Linked DNA regions of Homo sapiens. The protein of the gene in region 1 purifies or fractionates together with the protein of each later gene. This does not show direct contact. Each region holds a gene or a part of one and is shown in the gene's direction. Other genes may lie near its edges.

Evidence for each region.
Region 2: the proteins of LILRB4 (region 1) and C10orf88 purify together in Homo sapiens (affinity purification with mass spectrometry; 2 studies listed by BioGRID and IntAct, with this or other methods). This does not show direct contact.
Region 3: the proteins of LILRB4 (region 1) and RNF145 purify together in Homo sapiens (affinity purification with mass spectrometry; one large-scale study listed by BioGRID and IntAct). This does not show direct contact.
Region 4: the proteins of LILRB4 (region 1) and ATP2B2 purify together in Homo sapiens (affinity purification with mass spectrometry; 2 studies listed by BioGRID and IntAct, with this or other methods). This does not show direct contact.
Region 5: the proteins of LILRB4 (region 1) and ITFG1 purify together in Homo sapiens (affinity purification with mass spectrometry; one large-scale study listed by BioGRID and IntAct). This does not show direct contact.
Region 6: the proteins of LILRB4 (region 1) and MAEA purify together in Homo sapiens (affinity purification with mass spectrometry; one large-scale study listed by BioGRID and IntAct). This does not show direct contact.
Region 7: the proteins of LILRB4 (region 1) and RMND5A purify together in Homo sapiens (affinity purification with mass spectrometry; one large-scale study listed by BioGRID and IntAct). This does not show direct contact.

The regions. Positions count from the first base shown.
Region 1 is NC_000019.10:54,665,783-54,669,591, forward strand, and holds the end of LILRB4 (leukocyte immunoglobulin-like receptor subfamily B member 4 isoform 1 precursor), read left to right. Parts: intron 1-32; coding exon 33-149; intron 150-457; coding exon 458-533; intron 534-616; coding exon 617-654; coding exon of another isoform or gene 655-662; exon of another isoform or gene 663-674; intron 675-911; coding exon of another isoform or gene 912-914; coding exon 915-967; intron 968-1,852; coding exon 1,853-2,011; intron 2,012-2,090; coding exon 2,091-2,237; 3' UTR 2,238-2,936; downstream 2,937-3,809. UniProt on the Homo sapiens protein: Inhibitory receptor involved in the down-regulation of the immune response and the development of immune tolerance. Receptor for FN1. Receptor for apolipoprotein APOE. Receptor for ALCAM/CD166.
Region 2 is NC_000010.11:122,944,111-122,948,185, reverse strand, and holds part of C10orf88 (ATPase PAAT), read left to right. Parts: intron 1-4,075. UniProt on the Homo sapiens protein: ATPase that regulates mitochondrial ABC transporters ABCB7, ABCB8/MITOSUR and ABCB10. Regulates mitochondrial ferric concentration and heme biosynthesis and plays a role in the maintenance of mitochondrial homeostasis and cell survival.
Region 3 is NC_000005.10:159,202,652-159,206,726, reverse strand, and holds part of RNF145 (RING finger protein 145), read left to right. Parts: intron 1-3,070; coding exon of another isoform or gene 3,071-3,109; coding exon 3,110-3,293; intron 3,294-4,075. UniProt on the Homo sapiens protein: E3 ubiquitin ligase that catalyzes the direct transfer of ubiquitin from E2 ubiquitin-conjugating enzyme to a specific substrate.
Region 4 is NC_000003.12:10,498,729-10,502,803, reverse strand, and holds part of ATP2B2 (plasma membrane calcium-transporting ATPase 2), read left to right. Parts: intron 1-4,075. UniProt on the Homo sapiens protein: ATP-driven Ca(2+) ion pump involved in the maintenance of basal intracellular Ca(2+) levels in specialized cells of cerebellar circuit and vestibular and cochlear systems.
Region 5 is NC_000016.10:47,453,989-47,458,063, reverse strand, and holds part of ITFG1 (T-cell immunomodulatory protein isoform 1 precursor), read left to right. Parts: intron 1-3,905; coding exon 3,906-4,051; intron 4,052-4,075. UniProt on the Homo sapiens protein: Modulator of T-cell function. Has a protective effect in graft versus host disease model.
Region 6 is NC_000004.12:1,320,497-1,324,571, forward strand, and holds part of MAEA (E3 ubiquitin-protein transferase MAEA), read left to right. Parts: intron 1-1,884; coding exon 1,885-2,007; intron 2,008-4,075.
Region 7 is NC_000002.12:86,768,216-86,772,290, forward strand, and holds part of RMND5A (E3 ubiquitin-protein transferase RMND5A), read left to right. Parts: intron 1-1,807; coding exon 1,808-1,910; intron 1,911-3,342; coding exon 3,343-3,497; intron 3,498-4,075.

The DNA.
Region 1 (3,809 bases):
TCATCCCCATTCCTGATGTCATCACGCCCAAGGTCTGAGAAGGCACTGGGAGGTACTGATCGGGGTCTTGGTGGTCTCCATCCTGCTTCTCTCCCTCCTCCTCTTCCTCCTCCTCCAACACTGGCGTCAGGGAAAACACAGGACATTGGGTAAGTAGGAAATTGGGGGACCCGTGGGCTGATGGAGGGTGGGCTCAGGGCACCAGCCAAAGGGACTCCAGATAGGAGAGGTCATCTTAGAAACTCTGCTCCAGAAATTCCCAGTGAGAAAATCTAGAAAGAAGAAAATGAATGAGGGAGTAATGGAAGTGCTTTATTCTTTCGGTTTTTCTAAACTTAGAAAGTATTTAAAACATCCTTGCAAGTGTATTTTCAGGTTTCCTTTCCTCTTGACTTGCATGTGCAAGGCAGGTGGTTCTAACGTTCCCAGAGCTGAGACTCTGTCCATCTTCCCCCAGCCCAGAGACAGGCTGATTTCCAACGTCCTCCAGGGGCTGCCGAGCCAGAGCCCAAGGACGGGGGCCTACAGAGGAGGTAATTCTGCCCAAAGACCTCAGACTCCCACCCATCCCAACAGCCACCTCACTGTCCCCTTACACTCCCGTATCCTCCCCCAGGTCCAGCCCAGCTGCTGACGTCCAGGGAGAAAACTTCTGTGAGTGAGAGGCAGAGAAGGTGCACCTGGGGTGGAGCTGGGGGTCCCAAAATTTCAATAGCAATGGGGGCAGGAGCACAGGCTAGGATTGGTCAGGGACTCAGGGAGAAGTGGTCTGAACCCACATTGTGGGACCTCGGGGACATCACAGCCCCTCCCTGCGTTGCAGTGGCACTAATGGGAACAGGGCAGGGACCAGCAGGAATGAGAGGTCCCAGGGAACCTTCCCAGGAGATGAACCCCTTGCTCTACCCCAGCAGGTGCTGCCGTGAAGAACACACAGCCTGAGGACGGGGTGGAAATGGACACTCGGGTGAGAACCCGCCCCTGTCCCCGGCACCAAAGGCCTCCTGGTGCCAGATCTAATCCTGCAGGACTTCTCTGTCCTCCTTCCCCCGGCTCTCAGCATCGTCACGGTGGACCCCTCCTTGTCCAGCACGCTGCCTCCTGCCTGCTGGGACCTCACTCTCTCCTGCTGTCCTGGGACCTCATGGGCCTCCTCCCGGGTCCCCTTCCTGCTCCTCATCCTCTGTTTGGCCATCTGGTTGTTAGAGAGCTCCCCAGGCCTCAGGAGGATGACGAATAAATGAACCACTCCAGTCCCCTGGGCTCCCCTTCATTCATTCATCTAGTGAGTGTTCCCAGGGAGCTCACTGTGGATGGGGCTCCCCATGGGAGCTGCAGACACAGCAGGGAGCAAAGCCGCCCCCGCCTCCTGAGCTCACCTCGTGGTGGGAGACAAAATGCAAATAAATGCATCGTGTCCAGGAGTGCAACGTGCTGTAAGGAACATAAACCAGGTAAAGGGCAGAGAGTGTGGGGCAGTGGGGCCAGTCTGAATGGAAAGGGAGGGCTGTCTGCTCAGCTGTCATCTGAGAAGCCTGGACGGAGAGGGCCACGTGATCCTCTAATGGACGAGCCCCTGCAGGCAGAGGAAACAGCCGTGCAAAGGCCCCGAGGCAGCAGCGAGCTCTTGCAGGAAGGCCGCGTGAGGCTGCAGCCAAATGGGCAAGGTCAGAGTGAGGAGCAGAGACCAGAACCACAGGGAGGGAGCGGCCAGACCCTCCACGGCCTTAGGGCATCCCTGAGATTCCGTCAGGAAAGGGATGTAATCGGATCACCCTGGGAACAGTGGGGAAAATTGACTCCAGGGAGTCAGGAGGATTCAAGGACACCCCCCACCACTGTCTCTCTCCAGCAGAGCCCACACGATGAAGACCCCCAGGCAGTGACGTATGCCAAGGTGAAACACTCCAGACCTAGGAGAGAAATGGCCTCTCCTCCCTCCCCACTGTCTGGGGAATTCCTGGACACAAAGGACAGACAGGCAGAAGAGGACAGACAGATGGACACTGAGGTGAGTCCTTTCCTCTCCAGGCCCCCAGGCCTCCCCCACCCCCACCACGTTCCTTCCCTCTCACTCTCCCCCGCTGCAGGCTGCTGCATCTGAAGCCCCCCAGGATGTGACCTACGCCCGGCTGCACAGCTTTACCCTCAGACAGAAGGCAACTGAGCCTCCTCCATCCCAGGAAGGGGCCTCTCCAGCTGAGCCCAGTGTCTATGCCACTCTGGCCATCCACTAATCCAGGGGGGACCCAGACCCCACAAGCCATGGAGACTCAGGACCCCAGAAGGCATGGAAGCTGCCTCCAGTAGACATCACTGAACCCCAGCCAGCCCAGACCCCTGACACAGACCACTAGAAGATTCCGGGAACGTTGGGAGTCACCTGATTCTGCAAAGATAAATAATATCCCTGCATTATCAAAATAAAGTAGCAGACCTCTCAATTCACAATGAGTTAACTGATAAAACAAAACAGAAGTCAGACAATGTTTTAAATTGAATGATCATGTAAATATTACACATCAAACCAATGACATGGGAAAATGGGAGCTTCTAATGAGGACAAACAAAAAATAGAGAAAAATTAATAAAGTCAAAATGTTTATTCTTGAAAACATTAATGATACATGAATCTTGGCCACAATGAGAAAAATAAAAATGAAAAAAGAGCAGGCATCCATTTCCATACAGGAACAAAATAGGAGGCAGCACTACAGACCCTACACACAGCTTTACAGAGGTGAAAGAAAACTGTCAGCAATTCTATGCTGACATAACAGAAAATGTAGATGAGATAGATGAAATACGAAAAATTACAGTTTACTTAATGAACATAAGGATAAATAGAAAAACTGAATCATCATACATAAACATATATAAAATGCATTGATCCTGTAATCAAAAATGTTCCCACAAAGTAAATGCCACTTCAGCAAGGTTTGTTGGTGGTTTTTTCAAACTCTTATGCACTCATGAAACACACAGACACACACACACACAAACTTGCATAAATTTTCCCTGAGAATATTTTGTATATATTTACACAAATACATTTGATCAGACTAGGAACAAGTTGATACCAAAACCTGAAAAGGAAACTACAGAATGGGAAAGTCATAGAAGATCTCTCACAGAAATATAAATCCCTTAACAAATATTAACAAGTAAGATTCATGTCTCTATAAAATAGACAGTATATCATGACCACACTGGTTTTTTGTTATCCTTTGATTTTGTTTATGAAAAGCAAGGATAGCTTAATTTTCAAAAACTCAATCAATGTAATTCAGTATTTTAACAAAAGGAATGAAAAATTATCATCTCAATAGACAAAGCTTTTGTCTGAGCACCTTTTCATATAGCTGCTGACCATTTGTATGTCTTCTTTTGAGAAATGCCTGTTCAGCTACTTTGCCCATGTTTCAAGTAGTTTTTGGTTTCTTGCTGTTGCTTTGTTTTAGTTCCTTACATATTTTTGCATATTAACCCTTTATCAGGTATACAGCTTGCAACTATTTTCTCCCATTTCTGAGTTGTCTCTTCATTCTGTTTGCAGAAGCTGTTTAGAAGCCACACCTTTTGTCTATTTTTGCTTTTGTTGCTTGTGTTTTCAGGGCCATATCCAAAAAAACCTTGCCCGGACCAACGTCTTGAAGCTTTTCTCCCACCCATTTTTGTATATGGGATAAGGGTTCAATTTCATTCTTCTTCATATGAATATCCCCAGGATGTGTCCTATGCCCAGCTGCACAGCTTACCCTCAAACAGAAAATAATGAAGCCTTCTTCCTCCCAGGAAAGGGGACGTTC
Region 2 (4,075 bases), on another chromosome or scaffold:
TTCAATGCTAGAAGAATTTGATATAGCTGGGAAATGAATGGTAGTTCATTTCTCTGAAGCAAAAAAGTAATAGGCAAAGTTTAAAGTAGATTTCAGCTAGATCATAAACAGCTTGGGATGCTGGTTTAAATTTGTAGATGTTTTTGACTTATGTTTCAAGAAATTTTAAGCCACTGTCAAGTGTAAGGTGAATCTGAAGAAAGTGAGACTACAAGGAGAAGATGAGCTGCACGTCATTCCCCTCGTCCAGATGAGAGTGAATGAGGTCTAAGATTGGACGTAGTAACATAATGCTGGATGCTAAATGATGCTAAAATGATGGAGCCATTGGGACTTGACAGCTAACTTAATATTGGTATTATGATAGAAAAATCAAGTTAAACATGAAATTGAGGCTTTGAAGATGGTGATACTAATAATATAAATGCAGCCCAAAGGAGGAGGATGCTTGGAGGAAAAAGGAATTTAATTTTGGGAACATTGACTTTTAGCTGTGAATAAGACATTCCCTGGAAGGATGTTGCAAACATCTGGAAACAGAGGATTAGGAGAAATGGAATGAACCTTCAGTGGCTGGAAGGGAAGTTTAGGGGTGTACCCACAGTAGCTGACGGAGGGTGGTGAAGGGAGAGGAAAAAGGAACCAGAAACATAGAAGGCAGCAGTGTGATAGAGTAGCAAGAGAAACGATTTGATGTCAGGTAAAGTGACTTCAAACTCTTGTCCTGCCTCTTCTTAGTTCTGCATCCTATGGCAAGTTAATTAATATTTTTTTCAATATGAATTCCTCATGTACAAAATCTAAATGATAACACTGTAAGGATCACAGAATTGATGTGAAAATTTAAAATAAGTAATGCAAGTAAAGAACTCCTTGTAGATGTTGTGTGGTTCACAAATATTAATGTAGTACCAGTATTATAATATGGGCTGAGTTAAGAGAACCAGGAGAGCTGAAGATTATGGAAACCACAGAAAGAAGAATTTCAAAAAAGATGGAAATGTATACTTTTCTTCCTCCCACACCATGTTCTCACCTGGATACCTCAGGAGATTCCTAACTGGCCCACCTGTCCTGCTACAATCTGTTTTCCACAATGTACCGAGAATGACCTCAAAGGATAATTGGATCTCATCCTTCTCCTGTGCAAAGCCCCCTGACTGCTTGCCTCCCTTTGTACTTAGAATTAATCCTGATTCCTTACCTTAATCTCTAAAATGTAGGCCCTGCTTGCCTTCTCAACCTCATCTCCTGCCATGTTTCCTTGGGCAGCTTGCTCCAGACATTCTGATATGTGTATTCCGTAAATATCTAGATATGTTCCCACCTCCAGACCTTTGCACTCATAACTGTTCTCTGTGGCCAGAACTCCCTCCCTGTGATACTTCTGTATCTGCATTTTTCTTATTCAGATCTCATTTTAATGTTACATCTTTAATGACACCTTTCTTAGCCAACCAGTGTAAAGTAGCATGTACCTCCAAATCCGTATCAGTTTCATCAGTGCCCTTTTGACCACTTTGTTGTTGTTTTTGTATTGGTTGCATGTTTATCTCACTAAAAGACAAGCTTCATGTAAACAAGACTTATCTGTCTTGTTTATGGCTCCAAGTATTATACACAGTCATGCATCAATTCACAGTGGGGATATGTTCTGAGAACAAAGGTGATTAGGGGATTTCATGGTTATGAAACCATCATGGTATGTACTTGCAGAATCCTAGATCATATAGCCTACTACGTACCTAGGTTACGAACCTGTATAGCATGTTACTTTACAGAATACTCTAGGCAGTTATAATGGTAAGGATTTGTGTATCTAAACATAGAAGAGGTACTGTAAAAATATAGTATACAAGATGAAAAATGGCACGCCTGTATAGGGCACTTACCATGAACTGAACTTGCAGGACTAGAAGTTACTCTAGGTAAGTCAGTAACTGAATATGAAGGCCTAGAACATTACTGTACACTACTGTAGACTTTATAAACACTGCACATTTAGGCTATGCTAAATTTCTTTAAACATTTTTTATTTTTCAATAATAAATTAAGCTTAGCTTATTGTAACTTTTTTTTTTTTATTTTTTGCGACAGAGTCTTCCTCTGTCATCTGGGCTGGAGTGCAGTGGTATGATCTCAGCTCACTGCAACCTCTGCCTCCTGGGTTCAAGCAATTCTCCTACCTCAGGCCCCTGAGTAGCTGGATTACAGGCGCATGCCACCACACCAGACTAATTTTTTTATTTTTAGTAGATACGGTGTTTCACCATGTTGGCCAGGCTGGTCTCGAACTCCAGGTTCTCAGGTGATCACCTGCCTTGGCCTCCCAAAGTACTGGGTGGGATTACAGGCGTGAACCACCATGCCCAGCCTATCGTAACTTTTTAACTTTATATACTTAAATTTTAAAAAACTTTTTGACTCTTTTGTAGTAAAGAGCTTAAAACACAAACTCATTGTATAGCTGTACAAATATATTTGGTTTCTTTATATCCTTTTTCTATTAAGCTTTTTTTGTATTTAATTTTTTTTTAAGTTTTAAACTTTTTTGCTTAAAACAAAGACACAAACATACACATTACCCTAGGCCTACAGAGGGTCAGGATCATAAGTATCACTGTCTCCCACCTCCATATCTTGTCCCACTGGAAGGTCTTCAGGGACAGTAATACCCATGGAGCTGTCATCTTGTATAATAATAATGCCTTCTTCTGGAAGACCTCCTGAAGGACCTGCCTGAGGTGGTTTTACAGTTAACTTTTAAAACATATAAGCAGAAGGAATATACTTTAAGACTAAAAATATGGTATAGTAAATACATAAACCAGCAACATAGTCATTGATTATTATTACTAAGTAGTATACAGTATACATAATTGTACATGCTATACTTTTATATGACTGGCAGTGTGCAATCGGTTGGTTTACACCAACATTGCCACAAACATGTGAGTAATGTGTTACTATGATACCACTTGGGGACTGGAATTTTTTAGCTCCATTGTAATCTTATGGGACCACTGTCATATGTGGGTCCATTGTGGACCAAAACATTGTAATGTGACACATACATATATCTATCTATACATACATATATATATACGTATATATACATGCATATATCTATATACATATATATATACACATATATACACGCATATATCTATATACATATATATATATACACATATATATACACACACACCTATTGGATTGATCAGCTATTTCTTGGAGATCCTCAGGGAGTAAGTTTGAATAGTGATGAGATGTAAACCAAATTGTGAGGGATTAGGTAGTAACTGGGTATTTGGGATGTGGAGTTACTAAGTGCACACAGGTTTTTTTTTTTCAAGTTTAGAGATAAAGAGGAAATTAGATACTTGTGTAAAGGAATATTGAAGATAAATAAGGAATTTGAAAAGCTTGTGAGATTTGAGCTTTATTAAGAATTTATTTAGGGCAGTGTATTTTTTCAAGTACACTCCATTGAACACCTGTGTCAGAATCCTTTGGAAGGTCTTCAAAATGCAGATTCCTGGCCCTCACTATCTACTCAATCCCAGAGGGTGGGGTCCAGGAATCAGTGTTTTAAACAGTCATGTCTAAGTGAGTTTTATGTACATTGTGATTTGATAATAACTCTTTTTTTTAATTATTATTATACTTTAAGTTTTAGGGTACATGTGCACAATGTGCAGGTTTGTTACATATGTATACATGTGCCATGCTGGTGCGCTGCACCCACTAACTCGTTATCTAGCATTAGGTATATCTCCCAATGCTATCCCTCCCCCCTCCCCCCACCCCACAACAGTCCCCAGAGTGTGATGTTCCCCTTCCTGTGTCCATGTGTTCTCATTGTTCAATTCCCACCTATGAGTGAGAATATGCGGTGTTTGGTTTTTTGTTCTTGTGAGAGTTTACTGAGAATGATGGTTTCCAATTTCATCCATGTCCCTACAAAGGACATGAACTCACCATTTTTTATGGCTGCATAGTATTCCATGGTGTATATGTGCCACATTTTCTTAATCCAGTCTATCATTGTTGGACATTTGGGTTGGTTCCAAGT
Region 3 (4,075 bases), on another chromosome or scaffold:
TTATTTGGTATTATTTTGTTTTCAAGAGAATATTGAGCTCCCCTGTACTTTAGGATATGCTGATTAGCCCTGTTTGACAATAAATCTGGAACAGGATAAATTAGGCAACATTATAAAGGTATTCTCTAGATCAGGAGAGAAGGCTCCATTTTACTTCGTGTTTGTATGATATAGTGATTTGGCAGGTGTGAGTAATTGCAAGTACTTGCAAAGAAGATGAATATTTTAAAGTTTTGTTTTGATGTTGGTTTAGTGTGTGGTGCTAAAGTGTAGTGTAAAGTACCTATTTGTATTGATAACTATCATGTGCTCTTTTACTTTAGAAGGGTTCAAAGTGATAAGGTTTTGAAATTTTTTTCTCTTTGATTTTCCATGTATTAAATTTGTTTCGTCAGTGCCTTTATACATGACCAGCTTGCCACTGACTTGCTAAAATAACATTCACGTATAGAAATAAATGCAACATTTAGTTTCGTTTATTTGGGCGTATTTAATTCTATCCAAAGTCCTTGTTAAAAACATTTCAGTCTCGAGTTGACTATGTAGTAGAGGGGGATCTTGGATATTGTTTTTTATTGACAGCTTTCGGGACCCGGTATTTTCTCTTTATAGAAATAGAAATGTGTCCTGTTTTCTGTTTCTTATTATATTTGTTAGGCAGGAGTGGTGGGTGGAAATAAAGAGGGAACATGTACCATTCTGCTAATGGACTTTTGTAATAGAGATGATCCTCTGTACGGATTAGGGAGTTTTTCTTCCCTAGCAGATCTTGATTTCTAAAGCAGGATTAGTTATTTGTTTAGTTTAAATTTTCTTCTTTACCCGTTTAGGAGCCACAGTAAATGGTGAAAATGGGCACATTTTAAAATAGCAAAGCATTGAAAAAAGAGAAAGGTTCCAAATCAAATGAAATAAATATGGGCTACAAGTGTTAAATCAGTAATAGCTCCTCCCTCTCTTGTTACTTATAAAAACAGAGTAATGATTTATATTGGATTCCAGAATATAGAAAAATAGTTACTTTTCGATGGCAGTATAAAGACTGTCAGTAATACTGTCATCTCAGTACGTGGTGATTTTCAAATATGGTGGCTGGTGGTTTGTGAGAAGATCTATTCAATATTACTTTGAAATAAATTCCCAAGAGGGTATTGGGTTATCAGTTTGCTCACCAAAGTAAGTCTTTCCACTGTAATTCCTGAAGTTATCTAGATGGCTTATACACATTAAAATGCATTAAACTCTTTACCAACAATTTCTGTGAATGTTTTGGTGTATTTTTTCCTGGGATTAGAAAAAATAATAATATCATGGGCTTTGAGAAATTTAGATTCCTCAGTGGTTGGTTTGCAATAAATATTAAAGGTTAGAGATTTTATTTTTCAGTGCATTTTTCCTTCTTAGGACATGATATTTAGTTCTGATTTTCACAATAATATTTTTTCTTATGTAGGAAAATTATGAAAATGATCTTGTTCATGTGAAATAATCAGAATTGCAGTACTTATCTATAAAAATGTTAAATCTATATTATTGGCAGGCTATATATATAAAACATTTGGGTTATGGGAATGGTTGATATATGATTATTGAAAAGCTTTTATTGATAGTGTGCCAAGTTGGGTTGCCTTTAGCTTTTTGACTATCTGAACTAGGAAGCTATGAAAATTGGAGGGTAAGATGGAAATACTGACAAATATTTAACCATAGCATAGCAATCTGTCACTATAATTTTCTGCAGAAATAAATGTTTTCGTTTGTCCTGTAATGTCTGAAATTACTGCTAAAGCTGGAAATGTGTTTAGCTTTCTCAGCAAAATTCTTAAAAGGATATTGTCAGAGCCAACAATCCAGAATTATCTTTACTCTTTAAATTGTTCTTTACCCACTTTTGTTTGCTTTTTTTTTTTTTTTTTTTTTTTTGAGACGGAGTCTAGCTCAGTTGCCTAGGCTGGAGTGCAGTATTGTGATCTCTGCTCACTGCAACCTCTGCATCCCAGGTTCAAGCAATTCTTCTGCCCTAGCCTCCTGAGTAGCTGGGACTACAGGTGTGCACCACCATGCCCGGCTAATTTTTGTATTTTTAGTACAGACGGAGTTTCACCATATTGGCTAGGCTGGTCTCGAACTCGTGACCTCATGATCTGCCTGCTTCGGCTTCCCAAAGTGCTGGGATTACAGGCGTGTGCCACTGCGCCCGGCCTTGTTTGCCCTATTTTATATTTTTTTGGATTAATTTGAAGTTCTACCATATAAAGCAGTATGGCATTGAATTGTCCCTTTAAATAGTAAATTGTCCTGATAACTGCCTTTCATTTCCTCCTCCCCCTGCCCCCCCCCACTACTTATCATGGTCTGTGCAGAGACAGGGGCTGCAGACTCAATGCCTGGCGTCTTCCATGTGCCTGCTTATCTGTGTATCAAGGGAAGAATTTGATGAACACTTGAAGGCAGATTATGGGAATTTTAGACCATATTTAACTTTAAAGATTCAAGGAAATGATATTGTAAATAATGTTCCCTCTACCTGTATCTACATCATGAGTTCTCTGGATTGTAAATTTAGCACTTCAATTTTGATTGTAAGTGAATAAGGAAAAGCATAGAGTACAAGATGCTGCAAACTAAACGTGCAGTTATCAAGTTTTTATTGAATTGCTTAGGCTTTTTCATAGAGTAAATATTCAAAATTCACCCTCTTATGAGCTACATAAATCATAGTTTTATTGGAGTGAGTGAATTTTTCAAGTTAATTTTATACAAGTTACAGTAGTCTTACAGAGTGTTTTGTTCCTAGATTTGGAGTTAGTGGCCTTTTAAAAAATTAGTTTTGAGGCCAGAACATTTAATCAGAATTATAAGATTGGACAGAACTGAATGGGTCAATGTGAAAACACAATACAGAGGTTATTTTATGAATATCTAAAAATAGTAGTTGTGGCTGAGAAGTAGTATACGTTCTCACATAGTTTTGTACAGTGTGTGACAACCTATTAGATTCGTGAAAGGGTATCTAAAAGCGATTTGTGTTGACTTTTTATTTTTATATATTGTGTCTTCTGAATTTTAGGTCTTCTCCAAGAAAAAAAAAAAGAAAAAAAAAAACAACATGGCTGCAAAGGAGAAACTGGAGGCAGTGTTAAATGTGGCCCTGAGGGTGCCAAGCATCATGCTGTTGGATGTCCTGTACAGATGGGATGTCAGCTCCTTTTTCCAGCAGATCCAAAGAAGTAGCCTTAGTAATAACCCTCTTTTCCAGTATAAGTATTTGGCTCTTAATATGCATTATGTAGGTGAGTGTCTACATCACATTTTCTAATCTTCTAGTGAGCATTCTGATTTATGTCTTAGTATCTTTTTGAATTTGGGTAAAATGAAGTTCATTTTCATTAAGATGATAGTGATATAGTTATTGATGAGTGTTTATGAATCTTGATAGTTTTGTCTTATCATTGCACATGAATTATTAAGGCTACAAGAAAGTAAGCAGTATTGGATTTATTTTACTGGATAAAACTGGAAGGCAGAAGAAAACATTCTAGATTTTAATATGATGAAATATAAACAATGAGAAATACTTTTAGAGACATTTGGCCCCTTCTAATTTGTCCTTGTTTTGGGGTTTGGTAGTAATTCAGAAAGTAAGCTTTTTAAAATGCAACATTCTTTATTGTTCCCTGAGATAAACGAAAACATTAACATCAGCTGAAGATAAAGTGTTCAGTTAAATGAAATTTGGGAAATGATACTATAATACTTTGTTCCATAAAAAAAATCCTCCTGGAACTATAATTTTTTTTTTTTTTGCTTGAATCCCCTTTCAAGAAAAATGGAACTATCATTGATATGCTATGGGGTTAGTGGTAAAAATAATGATAAGAGATTGAAGAAATTAAAGTCAAGAAATACAAGCATGAAACAGATAAAATTTACCTAGAATAAAAATCATGATCCTTACTTTTTAGGTTTTGGTTTATTTGTAATGTATATAGCAATATATTTTATTAATGTTGTGATTGCAGAGTTCCAGACATGGTTTGAATGGTACTATAGTGGTTTTGCTAATATTTTATTA
Region 4 (4,075 bases), on another chromosome or scaffold:
TATAGCTCAAGAACTTAGAATTTTGTGGCAAGATTCCGAGAAAGAGTGAAGAGGATCTCCTATGGGTGAAGGCGGAGGAGCCTTCCCCAGGCGGGCGTGGCCCTGACCTAGGCAGCCGGACCGCTGTGTCGTCCCTTTACCCTATGGAGTTGCTGATGCCTAGAAAGCCAAAGCAGACAGATGCCTTCTGAGGCCACCTAGCTGGGACCGTTTATAAAAAGGAAACTGTGGCCCAGCCAGGCACAGGGACTTGTCCAAGGTCACACCGTGTTCTGTAGAGACCTGGGCTTCTTGCAAGTGCTCTCAGGCCCCAGACAAGAAGCAGCAGAGGCCTGTGTTGGCCCCTGGTTTTCCCCAGGTGTTTGACTGTGGGTGGAAAGTATGAGAGCCCTGGGCCCAGCCCTGCTCCTGACCAGCTGTGTGATCTTGGCCAAGTCACTTCCTCTCTCTGCCCTCAATCTTCTCATCTGTGGCCAGGCAGGCCTATCTCTGCCCTGTTTTATGCCACAGCTGCCAGAGAGCCCTGGACACTGTAGAGGGCTGTGCACGAAGGTGTGATTGGCATCAGGATCAGGAGCCGGAGCAGGTGAGCACCTTGCTGCTGCAACTGGCCAACTCTGAGATCAGAAAGGGAAAAAAGGAAAGAAATCTCTAGTTTGCAGATCGGAGGTCAGAAAAGCTGCCTGTGGCTTATGCTATGTGCAGAGCCTGAAACACTGGCCCATCCGCCTGCTGTCCCACTGCCCTCCTCTGCCTTCCCCCTGCCCAGCCACAGGTATGGGTCAGGAAACCCATTAATGCATTAATTAACCTAAAGATCACCTGATGGGGGCAGATTTCTGGGCCCTACCTTGATGAATCAGGAGGTCCCAGGGGCTACATTTCCACAGGTACCCCTGGGTTTTCACCCATTTCACTCCGCACCCTGGGGAGCTGAGGTGCTTAAGAGTGGGCTTGGTGGAGCACATAGGCGCTCAGAGCTGGGGGTGGCCTAGACACCATGCTGTTCTGCCTGTACCTGTCACACGTGGGGAAACTGAGGTCTCCAGCCTAGTGGGTGACTGAATGAGACTGAAACTCATTTCCTCTCCCCACCAGTCCCCTACCAACCCCTAGCCCCTGGCTTCACCCTGCACAGCTAAATCAGGCCCTCCTGAGGACCGATGAACCCTCAAATCCAAAACAAGGCCATCTTCTCAGCAGACAGCTGGGAGCCATGCTCCAAGGGCACTCTCCAAGACCCCATCTCTACAAAAAATTTAAAAATTAGCAGGGTGTGGTGGCATACTCCTGTCGTCCCAGCTATGCAGGAGGCTGAGGTGGGAGGATCGCTTGAGTCCGGGAGGTCAAGGCTGCAGTGAGCCGTGATTGTGCCACTGCACTCCAGCCTGGATGACAGAGCGAGACCCTGTCTCAAAAAAAAAAAAAAACCGTTTAAAAAATGGGTTATGCTATGGAAAACTCCTGGGACCTCCTGCTGGGCAGTGTGGCTTCGGCTTCACCCCGGTCTTCACTTGACAGTCTGGATGGAGGCGGCGGGAGGCAGGGGGAAGCGGGAGTGACGGTAAAAGCCTTAGAAGTGTCATTCACAGTCTAGGAAATCTCTGCAGGGTCAGAGAGTTCCAGATATGTGGCCAGAGACCACGGCTGGCAGGACCAGGAGGGCAAGTGACCAGGCCCGAGCAGGGGCCACAGCTCAGGTTCCTAAAGAAACAGAGGTCCCTGGGTATGGGGGAGAGTGTGTTGGTCTGAGGGTCAGGAGAGCTGGGTCCCAGGCCGGCTCATCACTGGCGAGTGACCTTGGAAAAGCTGTGTAAGCCCTCTGGTCCCAAGCTCTCCCCTTGTGAGAGGGGTCAGTGATCCTGCCCCCCAGTGTCCTTGGTGAGGGCAGCTTCTCCTGCCCACTGCCCCTTGGGGTGAAGGGTCAGAAACACTGCAAGTCTCAGGAAGTAGCAAGGAGAGCAACTGCAGGGACAGCCCGTTGTGTTTGTTTTCTGTGGCTGCCATAACAAATGACCACAGGCTAGGTGGCTTCAAACAACAGACGTGTATTGTCTCCCACTTCTGGAAGCCAGAAGTCTAGAGTCAGGAGCCAGCAGGGTTGGCTTTTCCTGGAGAGGCTGAGGAAGAGCCTGTCCCTTGTCTCCCTAGCTACGGGCAGTGGCCAGCAACCCTTGCTCTTCCTCACCTTGTGGCTGCGTCACACCCATCTCTGCTTTCATCTTCACCTCACTCCTTCCTGTGTGTCTCTCGGTGTCCTCTCCTCTGCTTCTAAAGACATTGGTCATTGGATTTAGGGCCCAACCTAGACCCAAGATGATTTCATCTCAAAATCCTTAGCTAATTCCATCTGCAAAGATCCTATTTCCAAACAAGGTCACATTCTGAGGTTCCAGGTGGGCATGAACTTTGGATAGGACACCGTTCAACCCACTGCAGTCACTAAGATTTATGAGGTGTTTATTGCTCATAAGACCTGCACACAGTCTTATCTCTTCTTCACCATCACCCATTTTCCGGATTACAGAAACCAGGGCCCAGAGACATTAAGAATGTGCCCAAGTCAGGCCAGGCGCAGTGGCTCATACCTGTAATCCAAGCACTTTGGGACGCCAAGACAGGTGGATCACCTGAGGTCAGGAGTTCGAGACCAGCCTGGCCAACATGGCAAAACCCCGTTTCTACTAAAAATACAAAAAAAGTTAGCCGGGCCTGGTGGTGCATGCCTGTAATCCAGCTACTCAGGAGGCTGAGACAGGAGAATCATTTGATCCTGGGAGGTGGAGGTTGCAGTGAGCCAAGATGGAACCATTGCACTCTAGCCTGGGTGACAGAGTGAGACTCTATCTCAAAAAAAAAAAAAAAAAAAAAAGAATGTGCCCAAGTCACACAGCAAGTGAGGGGCAGAGCTGGGATTTGAACCCAGGTCCCTGGTGCTCCTTCACCTTTCCACCTTTTTGTAGCTGGCTGGGGGATGCCCAGAGACCCCTTAGGGCCCACAGCTAGGAATCCATGGGGCAGGAATTCCAGCCAGCCCTATGAAGACCCCAGGTCTGCAGGGGCTCCTGGGCACCAGAGAGAGGCTGGAGACAGGCAGGGGAGCTTCAAGGTGTGAAGGGGCCCAGCCGTGGTCCCAGGAGACCAACATGTGGCAGAGGATTGAGAGCCACAGTTCCTTGTCTCTGCCACTGACTCTGTGAACGTCATTGTGCTCTTCCGGAGAATAGGGGCAGCAGCACTGACTTTATGGGGTAATTGCCAAGTACCGAAATGTTCATCATAATAGTACTAATCGCTAAAATGTGTCCGCAAGCACTTTACAAATGCTTTTTGTTTTCCCATGTAATGCGTGGGAGGGGAATTGCTTATTCAGTCATGTGCGTTCGGTTGTGTGTGGTTGAACCAGTGACTTCGCCTCAGTTTGCTCCTCCGTAAACCAAGGGTTAGCTGAGCACCCATCTTCCCGGTTGTCACGTGAGGCAAACAGGATCCAAGTACAGGGCTTGGCCCGGGTGTGGTCCAGGTAGAGGCTCAGCGGATGTTTTCTTGCCTGTAAGATGGGATAGTGGTAGTATTATGATGATGCTATTATTTGTTGTATGAGGATTTGGTGAAGTAATGCAAAGGAAGCACTTGGCTCAGGGCCTCGCCAGAAATTGATGGAAAGTGGCCTCCTTTGTGGCATCAGAAAGATTTGAGTATAAATCCTAATGCCAGTGTTTACTACTGTGTGACCTTGGGCAGGTAGCTTTGCTTCTCTGAGCTTGACATCCTGATATGCAAAGTGGAGTGGGAAAAACCTGCCTCACAAGATTGTGCCACGAGATGATGGGTAGGTAATGTCTCAAATGGAACCCTCATCATGCCAGGCATTCGAAATATGTTGAGCTTCTGCCCTGCTTGTGGGCATCTTAAAGATGTCCCCAGAAGGGGCACATCCTAGTCCAAGGAGGGTGGATTTGATTTGGGAAAATTGGGAGCAGTCGTGCCATAGTGGAGCATATGGGATTGGTGGAGCCTATGGGAGAAGCAGTGAATGGATGACACCGTTTGGGGTCCAAGCACCATGTAGCTT
Region 5 (4,075 bases), on another chromosome or scaffold:
AAGACTACTTAGGAAGCTGTATTTAAAAAGTCCCTGTGTGGGCTGATTAGTTCTCAGACTCTACAGTATTTTGAGTAAACTCAAACTCATGTTAAAAAGAAAAATGGCCTTGAACTAGAACTTTGAGGGGAAAGTTATAAATGGATAAACAGGAACTTATTTCCCTTGAGAAGTGTTTTTGGGTAGTGAATGTCAGCATGCTTGGAGTGGGGAAGAAACTGAAGTTGAGTGTATATGAGAAGTGAACTAACTGCATAGAGGTGATTTTTTTTTTATTAGAAATTAAGGAAATTTAAAAGATGTAAATGGCATGTGTTCTGATAAGTTAAAACAAATATCCCAATTAATTTTTTTATTAATGCAATGCACTTTCAAAATTTAGAAACTCTTGTTTGTGTTATAATTTAAAATATTTTTCAAAGTAAAAATAACTATTCTTCACCCTTATTCTCCCCCACACCCCTGTTTCTCTCTCAGATGCAACCACTTTTAAAACCTGTAGCTGATTCTTCTAGTGTTTATTACCATATTTTAAAATAAAATTTTACACTAATTTTCTTGAATTATCATTTTTAAATATTCAATTCTTGTTTTTTAACTAACATAATTTATCTACATTGTCCCAGTGTAATTAAATCATAATTTTTTGTTAAATTAGTAATCATTGTTTACCTTTTAACCATGTGGTGTCTATGTACTTCAGAACCAAGTAATGTACAGTATTTCTTTTCTTTTTCTTTTTTTTTTTTTCTTGAGACAGAGTCTCACTCTGTTGCCCAGGCTGGAGTGCCTTGGCATCATCTCAGCTCACTGCAACCTTTGCCTCCCGGGTTCAAGCTATTCTCCCACCTCAGTCTCCCAAGTAGCTGGGATTACAGGTGCCTGCCACCATGCCTAGCTAATTTTTTGTATTTTTAGTAGAGATGGGATTTCACCATGTTGGCCAGGCTGGTCTCGAGCTCCCGACCTCAGGTGATCCACCTGCCTCGGCCTCCCAAAGTGCTGGGACAGTATTTCATTTTTTGTGCAGCTTGCCCTACTGGAATAAATGATTGCTTTTTAAAAAATAGATTGCATAGTTTTCTATGTACATACCCTTAATTTCTTTGCAGATATTCCATCATATCTGCCATATACCTATCCTGCATTTTTGTTTTTCCCATTGGATCCTCTACATTCCTATCCAGTCTGGATTCATTCTCCAGGCCTTTTGTAGACTTACTATGTGGGGAATTTCCCCATGTAAAAAAAGAAATTTCCTCATTTACTTCACGGGGGTGTGTCTTTCCAGAAATTCCTGAGAAAGGATGCCTGATAAGTCCTGTCACATCCAAAAAGTTTTTCTACCCACTTTTTTTTTTTTTTTTTTTTAGAGACAGAGTCTCACTCTGTTTCCCAGGCTGGAGTGCAGTGGCACAAGCTCAGCTCACTGGAACCTCCACCTCCCTGGTTCTAGCAATTCTCCTGCCTCAGCCTCCTGAGTAGCTGGGACTACAGGTGCACAACGCCACGCCCAGCGAATTTTGTAGTATTTTAGTAGAGACAGGGTTTCACCGTGTTGCCCGGGCTGGTGTCAAAACTCCTGAGCTCAGGCAATCCACCTGCCTTGGCCTCCCAAAGTGCTAGGATTGTAGGCATGAGCCACCGCGCCCGGCATCTACCCACTCTTAAAAGTTTGGTTAGCTTATTGTGTTCTAGCTTCATGGGTTGCAGTTTTAAAATTCAACCCTCTTCTTTCTCCTAATCTTTTAAATGTAAATTGTTTTAATTTTGGAAGCTATTGGAGTCTCTTCTTTTTCTATTTTGTTCTGATTTCATGATGATGTGCCTTGGTATAGATTTGTTTTTCTTTTTTGATAAAGACAGGGTCTTTCTCTATCACCCAGGTGAAAAAGGAGTGCAGTCACACAGTCATAGCTCACTGTAGGCACCTAATCCTGGGCTCAAGCTGTCCTCCCACCTTCGCCTCCCAAAGTGCTGCAATTACAGGAATGATTATTCTTTACTTATTATGCTAGGCATTATGTGGGCCCTTTCAAGCTAGAGGCCTCTATCCTTGGGAGCTTTTTGAAATACTCTTACATTATTAAATATTTCTTTGAAAAATTTTTTTGTCTCTTTTAGGAGTTTCTATCAGTTGATTAGTCTGCCTGGGTTCATCCTTTATTCCTTTATCTTATCTGTTTCTTATTTTTATCATTTAGTTTTGTTTTATTTTCCTTTGCAGGAGGTTTTCTCAACTTTCTCTTTTAAATTCTAAGTCCTTTTTTTTTTTTTTTTTTTTTTGGTGGGGGATGGAGTCTTGCTCTGTTGCCCAGGCTAGATAGAGTGCAATGGTCCAATCTTGGCTCACTGCAATCTCCACCTCCTGGGTTCAAGCGATTCTCCTGCCTCAACCTCCCAAGTAGCTGGGATTAGAGATGCACGCCACCACGCCTGGCTACTTTTTGTATTTTTAATAGTGACAGGGTTTTGCAATGTTGGCCAGGCTGGTCTCAAATTCCTGACCTCAAGTGATCCACCCACCTCCACCTCCACCTCCCAAAGTGCTGGGATTACAGGCGTGAACCACCGCGCCCAGCCAGGTGTCACATTTTTAATTTCCGAGGTTTTTCTTTTGTTTTCTTACTGATGTTGTCTTTTAGCATACTGTTGTTGGTTTGTTTTTTTTTTTATAGACAGACTTTTTTCTCTTAAGTGTAATTTTGAAGTTTTCTTTTGTTGCATTAGTTCTGTTTTCTTCAGGTTCCTTATTGCTATTTGTTTTAGCTCTCTTTAATAGTCAAAGTTTTCTTCAGAAGGCAGGTGTCTACTCACATTTTCAAGTAAGGTGCAAAAGAAATAATTGGAAATGTATTGCCTAGTGGGACTAGTCTACTATCTTTTGCCCTGCATGTATGTTCTTGACAGACTAACATTCTAGAAATAGGGTAGAGCTGTGGGCAAGGGTTAAATTGTTCCTTTTGTAGACTTTTGGTTAACTCCTGTGTCTAGCTTAAGGCCAAAACCTTACCCATTACTGTAATTTAAATCCTTAATTCCTGAGACTTTCCAGAAATACACCACTTGGTTCTTACCTTGCTGAGTGAGAGGGAGAAAGAACTACCACTGATGCATTAAGAAAGTAATTATCTATAGTCTAATTGGAAATTTGCTGTCTTGCTATTTCATCTGAGTAGAATTAAGTATAAAATGAATTAAAGGCCTAATTTTTGCTTGGGTCGCTCAGATAATAAGACTGCAGGACGTTAAGCTTTCAAGATTCATATAAATAATTTTAGAATTATTTTGTTAATAAAAATATATCAATACCTATGAAAAGGAAAAAATAAAAATATACATATAAAGTTAGATATATATGTTTGGATGCTATATTGATTGCCAAGTTTCGTTAAAAAAAATTCCATTCTTAATTTACTAGCTTTCAGAAATAAAATGATTCTTTTAATTTTTACTGTAAATTTTGAATTTATGTTAAAATCCAAACTAAATATTTTATAAATAATATCTTTTAATTGAAAACATCCCAGTGATAATGCTTACTGCTTTGGCAATTATGAGCCTCCATTTGTTAGAAACACCATCCGAATGTCTTGGTGTCCTTGACAAAGGAACTATATAGAAGGGCTATACTAGCCATTGCTTGAACATAATAAACACGTTTTCTCTCGACATATTTCAGATTTGTCTTGTTTCTTGAGACTATTCTGCATTCATTCTGAACTCTTTTTTAGACCAAAGAGGTCTAAATACATGATGGATGAAAAGATAGGAAAGAGAAGGCAATCAGTCAGTTCTGTTAAGTTTTAAGTTTTTCATTGAAAATATTTTTGTGTGGTAGAAATACAGAATTGTCCTTTTCCATTACAACTTGTCTGATATTTGTAAATGCTTGTTTCTTTTAGGAATCACAGTGCATTGATAACAAGTGTAGTCCCTGGGGATTATGATGGAGATTCTCAAATGGATGTCCTTCTGACATATCTTCCCAAAAATTATGCCAAGAGTGAATTAGGAGCTGTTATCTTCTGGGGACAAAATCAAACATTAGGTGAATTTGTTTTAAAAATTTTTA
Region 6 (4,075 bases), on another chromosome or scaffold:
CAAACATGCAAGAAAACGCTATGAAGGGGCTTCAGAAAAGAAATCATCAAAGCAAACCTGCAAGAAAATGCTATGAAGGGGCTTCAGAAAAGAAATCAAAGCAAACGTGCAAGAAAACGCTATGGAGGGGCATCAGAAAAGAAATAATCAAAGCAAACGTGCAAGAAGACACTATGAAGGGGTTTCAGAAAAGAAATCATCAACATGAACATGCAAGAAGACGCTATGAAGGGGCTTCAGAAAAGAAATCATCAAAGCGAACATGCAAGAAAACGCTATGAAGGGGCTTCAGAAAAGAAATCATCAAAGCAAACATGCAAGAGGCCGGGCACGGTGGCTCACGCCTGTAATCCCAGCACTCTGGGAGGCCAAGGTGGGCAGATCACGAGTTCAGGAGATCGAGACCATCCTGGCTAACACGGTGAAACCCTGTCTCTACTAAAAATACAAAAATTTAGCCGGGCGTGGTGGCAGGCGCCTGTAGTCCCAGCTACCCGGGAGGCCAAGGCAGGAGAATGGTGTGAACCCAGGAGGCGGAGCTTGCAGTGAGTGGAGATTGCGCCACTGCACTCCAGCCTGGGCGGCAGAGCGAGACTCCGTCTCAAAAAAACAAACAAAAGCACACATGCAAGAAAATGCTTTGAAGGGGCTTCAGAAAAGAATAATCAACATGCAAGAAAACGCTATGAAGGGGCTTCAGAAAAGAAATCATCAAAGCAAATGTGCAAGAAAACGCTATGAAGGGGCTTCAGAAAAGAAATCATCAAAGCAAACGTGCAAGAAAACGCTATGAAGGGGCTTTAAAAAAGATATCATCAAAGCAAACATGCAAGAAAACGCTATGAAGGGGTTTCAGAAACGAGAAACCGTTAAAGAAAAGATGCAAGGAAACAACACTGTGAGGGGTTTCAGAAAAGAGAAATCATCAAAGCAAACATGCAAGAAAATGCTATGAAGGGGTTTCAGAAACAAGAAATCATGAAAGAAAAGGTGCAAGAAAACAACGTTATGAGGGGTTTCAGAAAAGAGTAATCATCAAAGAAAACAGCGCATCTGTGAGGCCGGTGGTCCAGACGTGGGGCTGTGGGACCCAAGTGGTGAACTGTGGCCTCATCCTGGGCCGTTGGGTCCTGGGCTATGTGCAGGCGGAGGTGCCGTCCTTGGTCCCACTGGGGAAGGTCGGGAGTCATTGCTGCTGAGGACCACCTGAGCGCTTGCCCCAAGCCTTGCCGTGCCTGGTGGAGTCCCGTACCAGCTGCTGTCCTGCCCCTGCCAGAGACCATGGGTTCCACTGCTAGGCACTGAGCACCCACCCCCTGTGCCCGGCCACTAGCGGAGACTTGATGCTAAGCCTGGGTTACTCTGTTTTTTTTGTTGTTTTTTTTTTTTTTCTTTGCTTTCATATAAATCATTGGTTGTAACTACCGCGATATTAGCCATAATGTGTTTATGTATTATTTAGCATGTTATTATTTGCTTACTGTTGATTTTGAAATGAGGGGGCTGCCCAGGGAGGGCCTGTAGATGTGCTGGGGGGCTGTGGGGAGTGGAGACAGGGCCGCCTGGCATGTGGCCTGGCCCTGCCTGCATGTGTGTCTCAGCAGCTCCTCTCCATGGACAGGTGGGGCCAGCCTGGCTCCCTTGCCCGGCTATGGCTGCTGTCTACGTGAGCGTCCGACCTTTTGGTCCTTGGGGGCTGTTCTGTTCCTAGGATCTCAGAGCGGCCCTGAGTAGTCCACGAGTGCAGACCCACAGTGTGGACTGGAGATGCATCTCGAGTGGTGGCCGGTGCTGGGCCTGCCTCATGGAGGCTGGGGTGTGGGAGGGTGGCATGGGGGCCTTGAGCCAGCACATTCTGATCAGGTGCTGCTTCCTTCCTCTAAGGACCTAGTGAATATTGAGATGTTCCTGACGGCCAAAGAGGTGGAGGAGTCCCTGGAGAGGCGTGAGACGGCCACCTGCCTGGCCTGGTGCCATGACAACAAGTCCCGGCTCCGGAAGATGAAGGTGCACGGACTCCCAGGTTGGGGTGGGAGTGGGTCGGGGCCGAGGCTGCGCCACCTGCCCTGGAGCCAGCACCCCCTTGCCTGGTGGTTCACAGTAGTTTGGTTTTGGTTTGTAAGGTGGGGGTTGGGTTTGGGAGTTTTTTTGGTGGCTGTGTTACACTTTTAGGCTAAAATCTGGAAAAGTGCACCTCATTTGGCATTACAGTTTGTGTACAGCTGGCATGAGGCTCAGAAGGAGTGGGTTACAGGAGGCTGACCATGTGCACACAGAGTGTTGGGGCTGCTGGGCTTAGAGCCTGGAGACAGGTCAGTCCTGCTCCATGGGGGTACTCCATGGGCTCCCTGTGCTCAGTCATAGACACAGAAAAGCTGGTTGGGAAGTCATTCTCCATCTGCGAGGCTGCAGAGCTCTGGGCTGTGATATTGTTAATGAATACCCACTTTTTTTTTTTTTTTTTTTTTTTTTTTTTTGAGACGGAGTCTCGCTTTGTCGCCAGGGTGGAGTGCAGTGGCACGATCTTGGCTCACTTGCCTCCGGTGTTCAAGCGATTCTCTTGCCTTGGCCTCCTGAGTAGCTGGGATTATAGGCATGCGCCACCATGCCCGGCTAATTTTTGTATTTTTAGTAGACATGGGATTTCACCACGTTGGCCAGGATGGTCTTGATCTCCTGACCTTGTGATCCACCTGCCTCAACCTCCCAAAGTGCTGGGATTACAGGCGTGAGCCACCGTGCCCGGCCGAGTACCGACTTTTGTAGAGACCAAAAGAAGCTTAAGAAATGGACTCCTAAAGGACAAAATTTAAACCTGCTTATTAAAAGGCATTGTCACCCTAGGGGCTTGCAGAAATGTTTTAACTTATGTTAACACTTCTGCCTCCATTAGCAAAACTTTTCTGTCTTCTAAACTGAGCGCTGCTTTAACCTCACCCTGGCTGAGTTTGGCAGGGTGCACGCAGTTACCAGCCAGGAGTGACACACTGCCACTCAGGGCCGCCAAAACAAGCACGAAGCAAAGACGGGACGAAAAAGTAGAGCGGCTAGTAGCTCCCCTAAAGAGAGTTTGGACCTTGGTATGGAAACCCTAAAAGGAAAGCCAGAATTGGTATGTAACCTGCGGCCCCACTACACAGTGCCAGCCCCACACTCCCTCCCAGAGAGCCGGCACACACCTCACAGTGGGAACTCTGCCAGGGCTGTTTCCTGTGGATGTCAGAGGGAAGATAGGTTCTTGGTGCTGCCAGGATATTCCTGCAAGCCCTAATTACCTGCCGGACAGTGTTGCTGGAGGGTGTTGGAGGCTTGCCACGAGCACACGACCTGTCTGAAGCTGCTGTGGGGACAGGCAGGGCCAGGACTCGGGGCCCTGAATGCATGCCTGGGGGACGAGTGTGCCTGGTGTTGGATGAAGTTGAGATTGGATGCCTGGTGGATGAGCGTGCCTGGTGTTGGATAAGTTGAGATTGGGTGAGCATGCCTTGTGTTGGATGAGTTGAGATTGGATGAGCGTGCTTGGTGTTGGATGAAGTTGAGATTGGATGCCTGGTGGATCAGTGTGTCTGGTGTTGGATGGAGTTGAGATTGGATGCCTGGTGGATGAGTGTGCCTGGTATTGGATGAAGTTGAGATTGGATGCCTGGTGGATGAGTATGTCTGGTGTTGGATGAAGTTGAGATTGGATGCCTGGTCAATGAGTGTGCCTGGCGTTGGATGAGTTGAGATTGGATGCCTGGTGGATGAGCGTGTCTGGTGTTGGATGAGTTGAGATTGGATGCCTGGTGGATGAGTGTGTCTGGTGTTGGATGAAGTTGAGATTGGTTTGGATGAAGTTGAGATTGGATGCCTGGTGGACGAGTGTGTCTGGTGTTGGATGAAGTTGAGGTTGGATGCCTGGTGGATGAGTGTGTCTGGTGTTGGATGAAGTTGAGATTGGTGTTGGATGAAGTTGAGATTGGATGCCTGGTGGATGACCGTGCCTGGTGTTGGATAAAGTTGAGATTGGATGCTTGGTGGATGAGCGTGCCTGGTGTTGGATGAGTTGAGATTGGATGAGCGTGCCTGGTGTTGG
Region 7 (4,075 bases), on another chromosome or scaffold:
GGTCCTGAAACCAAAACATTTTAAGAAACTGTTGTAAGAAAATAACTCTTTTTTAGCTCTTCTATTCATTTAATTCCACAAATGTTTTGCATACCTGCTATGTGCCAGGCACTGTGGGCACTGTGTTGGATATGAAGATGAATAAGGTGCATTCCACAGGGTGCTCCATCCTAGCGTAGGAGTGGACAGATGCAATTAGCTATAATGTGAGGCGCTGATGCCATCAAGTTCTCTGAGGAAGACTCTAAAGTGGGAATGTACATGCAGAAAGTTTACTGACATCAGCACCTGTGGGAGAATGAAAACAGCAGGATTGGGCAGAGAGGAAAGTTGGACTGTATTAGAGTGGCAACAAGGTGTCTCCCATCCGTGAGGAGCTCTGGAGCTGCTGTGGGCCCGTGGAGTTGTCCCAAATTGGGCCTATAGGGCTGGGGTTTTGTACCCTCACATGGAGCAATTGCTGGATGTGACTCTGGTCAGATGACTCTCTTCAACTGAGGACAGTCCTGAAGAGACGGACACAGCTGAGAGTTGGCTGCCAACACTTCCAGATCTGAGAAATGAGTGCTTCCACCCTGGACAGGGGTGATCTGGGGATAAGAGGAACTATGCAAAAAAAATGTTTCAGGAGCAAGCATGTCATTTGACTGATAAGCTGAGCCCATTAAATCCAGTTGTTTTGTGCAATATAAAACCTTTTTTGGCACTAATGTAAGATTATTATGAAATTCTTTATATTTTACTTTTTGAAACAGGGTCTCATTCTGTTGCCCAGGTTGGAGTGCAGTGGCACGATCGTGGCTCACTGCAGCCTCAACCTCCTGGCATCCTCCCACCTCAGCCTGCTCAGTAGCTGGGACTCTAGGCACATGCTACCATACCTGGCTAATGGCTAATTTTTATATCTTTTGTAGAGACGGGGGTCTCACTGTGTTTCCCAGGCTGGTCTCAAACTCTCAAACTTAGGTAATCCTCCCACCTTGGCCTCCCAAAGTGCTGCAATTACAGGAGTGAGCCACCACCATCTGCTGTTATTAAATTCTCTAAAAACCTTATTCTCAATTCTGTACTTCTTTCCTGTGGATTGAAAATGGTGTGTAAATCAGCACCATCTGCAGACCACATTTTGAGTATCATTGTTCTAATTAGCGTATACCTTGGAGCACATTTTGTAAGAAAAATAAGTCTGGTGGTATATGGTCTGTAAGGAAGGGAATAGGAAAGGAAGTTATGTCTTGTATATTGCTGAGTGAAGAATTTTGTGCAAGAACATCTCTTTTTCCTTCAAACTCAGATGCTAAAACTACTGTATTTGGAAGAGTGTAGTAGTTCTTAATTCCTGCTCTTCATTTGAATTAATTGGTTCTCCAAAGCTGCTTTCTTTTTTAAAATGCATGTTTTAAAACTTTATTTTTCTATTTTCTGAGGAAGTAAGCTAAAGTTAAATTACCCTAGCAGATGAGTTTTTTTTTTTTAACGTTTGCGTTCTTTAACTGCATTTACCCCCATATTGGTGAGGTTTATTTAGAAAATTTAGAGTTTTATTTTTTGTTTTGTTTTTTAACTGGGATTGGTTTTCAGTAACTTCAGGAAATATACCAGTGGGCCTGGGGAAGAAGGGGAGGGAAAACAAGTTATTTCTCTTCTAGTGGAAATGGCTGGATTTACTTTTAGCAGAACAGAAAGCTCTCACCCTGTCCAGTGGCCAGGGTCTGCAGCACATAGAGTCTGGAGAAATTGATGTCTCCTTGGACCAAGCGGCCTGACCCCTGGCCTGGCACTGACGTTTCCTCTTCTGCTCTCCCAGTTTCTCAGCAGGTTGTGTGGCGCTGCCAGCTTTAATTAACATCAAAGCCGTGATTGAACAGAGGCAGTGTACTGGAGTTTGGAACCAGAAAGATGAATTACCTGTGAGTTCCATTTTCTATTGGCTATTTACTTTTACTGCCATTAGAAGAATATGGCATCTTTAAATGTTCATCTTACCTTTTAACCAGGAAACATTGTAGCCATTTGACAGGAGTTCTTTTATGGATATATAAAAGATTAAACAATACAAATGAAGAGCCTAGTACATTTTGGGGACCCTGGAGGAGGAGTATTATAATTTTGACTTGAAGTGCCTTTGAAAGCTGGTGAAGGGAAACATCAGAAGTGGGGAGGGCTGTACATACAGTAGCAGGCAGTGTGTTCTGCAGTGCAGTTCACAGACCACTCCTGTGATTGTTTTTCTAATATAAACGCAAATTTAATTGGTTTTACTTTTGTCTTAACTATTGCTGTCGATAAGATCACGAGTTTGTGCTGGTTACATTTGCCAATAGAATAAGTATAGAGCTCTTAAAGGTCGTAACACCTGCAGTCATCAGTGGGTCTCTAGTACTGTATTTCTACTGCTCTCATGGAAAGGACCATGGTTTTAAACATCAGCACGATCACTTGCCAACTCTAGAACTTCTCTAAGCAGTAGTGTATTCATCTCTAAGACAAGCACCAGCTTTCTCTTTATGGGGCTGCTGAAGGCTAGAGATAACATAAGCATGCTTAGAATAAGACGGGATACATGGTAGGCACTCAAATTGTGGCTGCCATGGTGCAGTTATGATGTGAAGTGGCGAAGGTCATTGTATGTATGTTTCCACCAGGTCTCTGACAGGCACTGAGGCTCTGGCCTGGAATTGTCGTTCCTGTCATGATTGTGTCACAGACCCTGAAAAGCTAACATACGCATTTGTTTTTTTGCCCGTTTTATACCACACCTGTACACGGGTTTATTTGCAGTTACCTTGTTCTTCCAGCAGGTAACCCTGTCAGTTGGTTGCCCCAGCTTCTCCTCAAAGATCTTTTCTGATTAAAGGCACAGGTGCAGTCCTGGTCCTGAGTGTGGTCAGGACACAAGTAGCACTCCTGCTCTACTGCCGCTAACTTGAACAAGTGAAAAGAACTTGAGCCTTCACTTGTTTTGTGGAGGCAGGTGCCTGGCATCTGGCAGTTTCCCATTTATGTTGTAAGCATCTCTGACATGCACTAAGAGCAGACTGAAATCTGAATTCACCTAAAGACTGTGTGTCAAGCCAGTAAAGCCATTAGAGGTGGTGATCAGGTCATTGTTTGTCAGACTTGTTTTTACACTTTGTCAGCTTTCTTGAAAATAATCTTGAAGGCTAATTTAACACTTTGAATCACTAAGACTGTCCATCTGAGTTAGAAGAGTGCTATAGAAAGTTACATTCAGGTGAATAGATCTGATCAATGTTCTTTGCTGCACAGTGTATATTACCATGTGGATGGTTTTGTGAAATATGACTTCAGCTTTTTTACTTTTTTTTTTTTTTTTAACAGATTGAAGTGGACCTTGGTAAAAAGTGCTGGTATCACTCTATATTTGCCTGCCCCATTCTTCGTCAGCAAACAACAGATAACAATCCACCCATGAAATTGGTCTGTGGTCATATTATATCAAGAGATGCCCTGAATAAAATGTTTAATGGTAGCAAGTAAGTGTCTGACTTTTAAAAAATGTTAGCAAATAAATTTTGTTTTGGAACTTGGTAGGAGGATAAGAAGTGATGAGGATTAAAAAAATGTAGCTAGATTTAGAACTAAATAAATTTCTTAACTATTCATTTGGCAAAGTTGGTGGTATCTGATTTGAGTATTTTTAATGTGTCTATGGATTTGGTGATTAGATTTATAAGCATGTCTTTAACTTAACTTTTGGGGTAGGTGATAGATTTTCCCCTTTTTTATACAAATGGTCGCATACTAAAAAATGTTCTGTACTTTGCTGTTTTCACTTAGTGATGTATTTTGGAGATCTTTTTCTGTGCTGCAGAAACAGCCCTCATTATTTTTTTGTTAAAGCTGCAGTATATTCTACTGTATAGAAATATGATTGGGTAGCCAGTTCCCTATTGATGAACATTTGTTTCTCTAAACAGTGCTAAGTGAAGGCCAGGTGTGGTGGCTTATGCCTGTAATCCCAGCACTGTGGGAGGCCGAGGCAGGCGGATCACGAGGTCAGGAGATTGAGACCATCCTGGCTAACACGGTGAAATCCCATCTCTACTAAAAA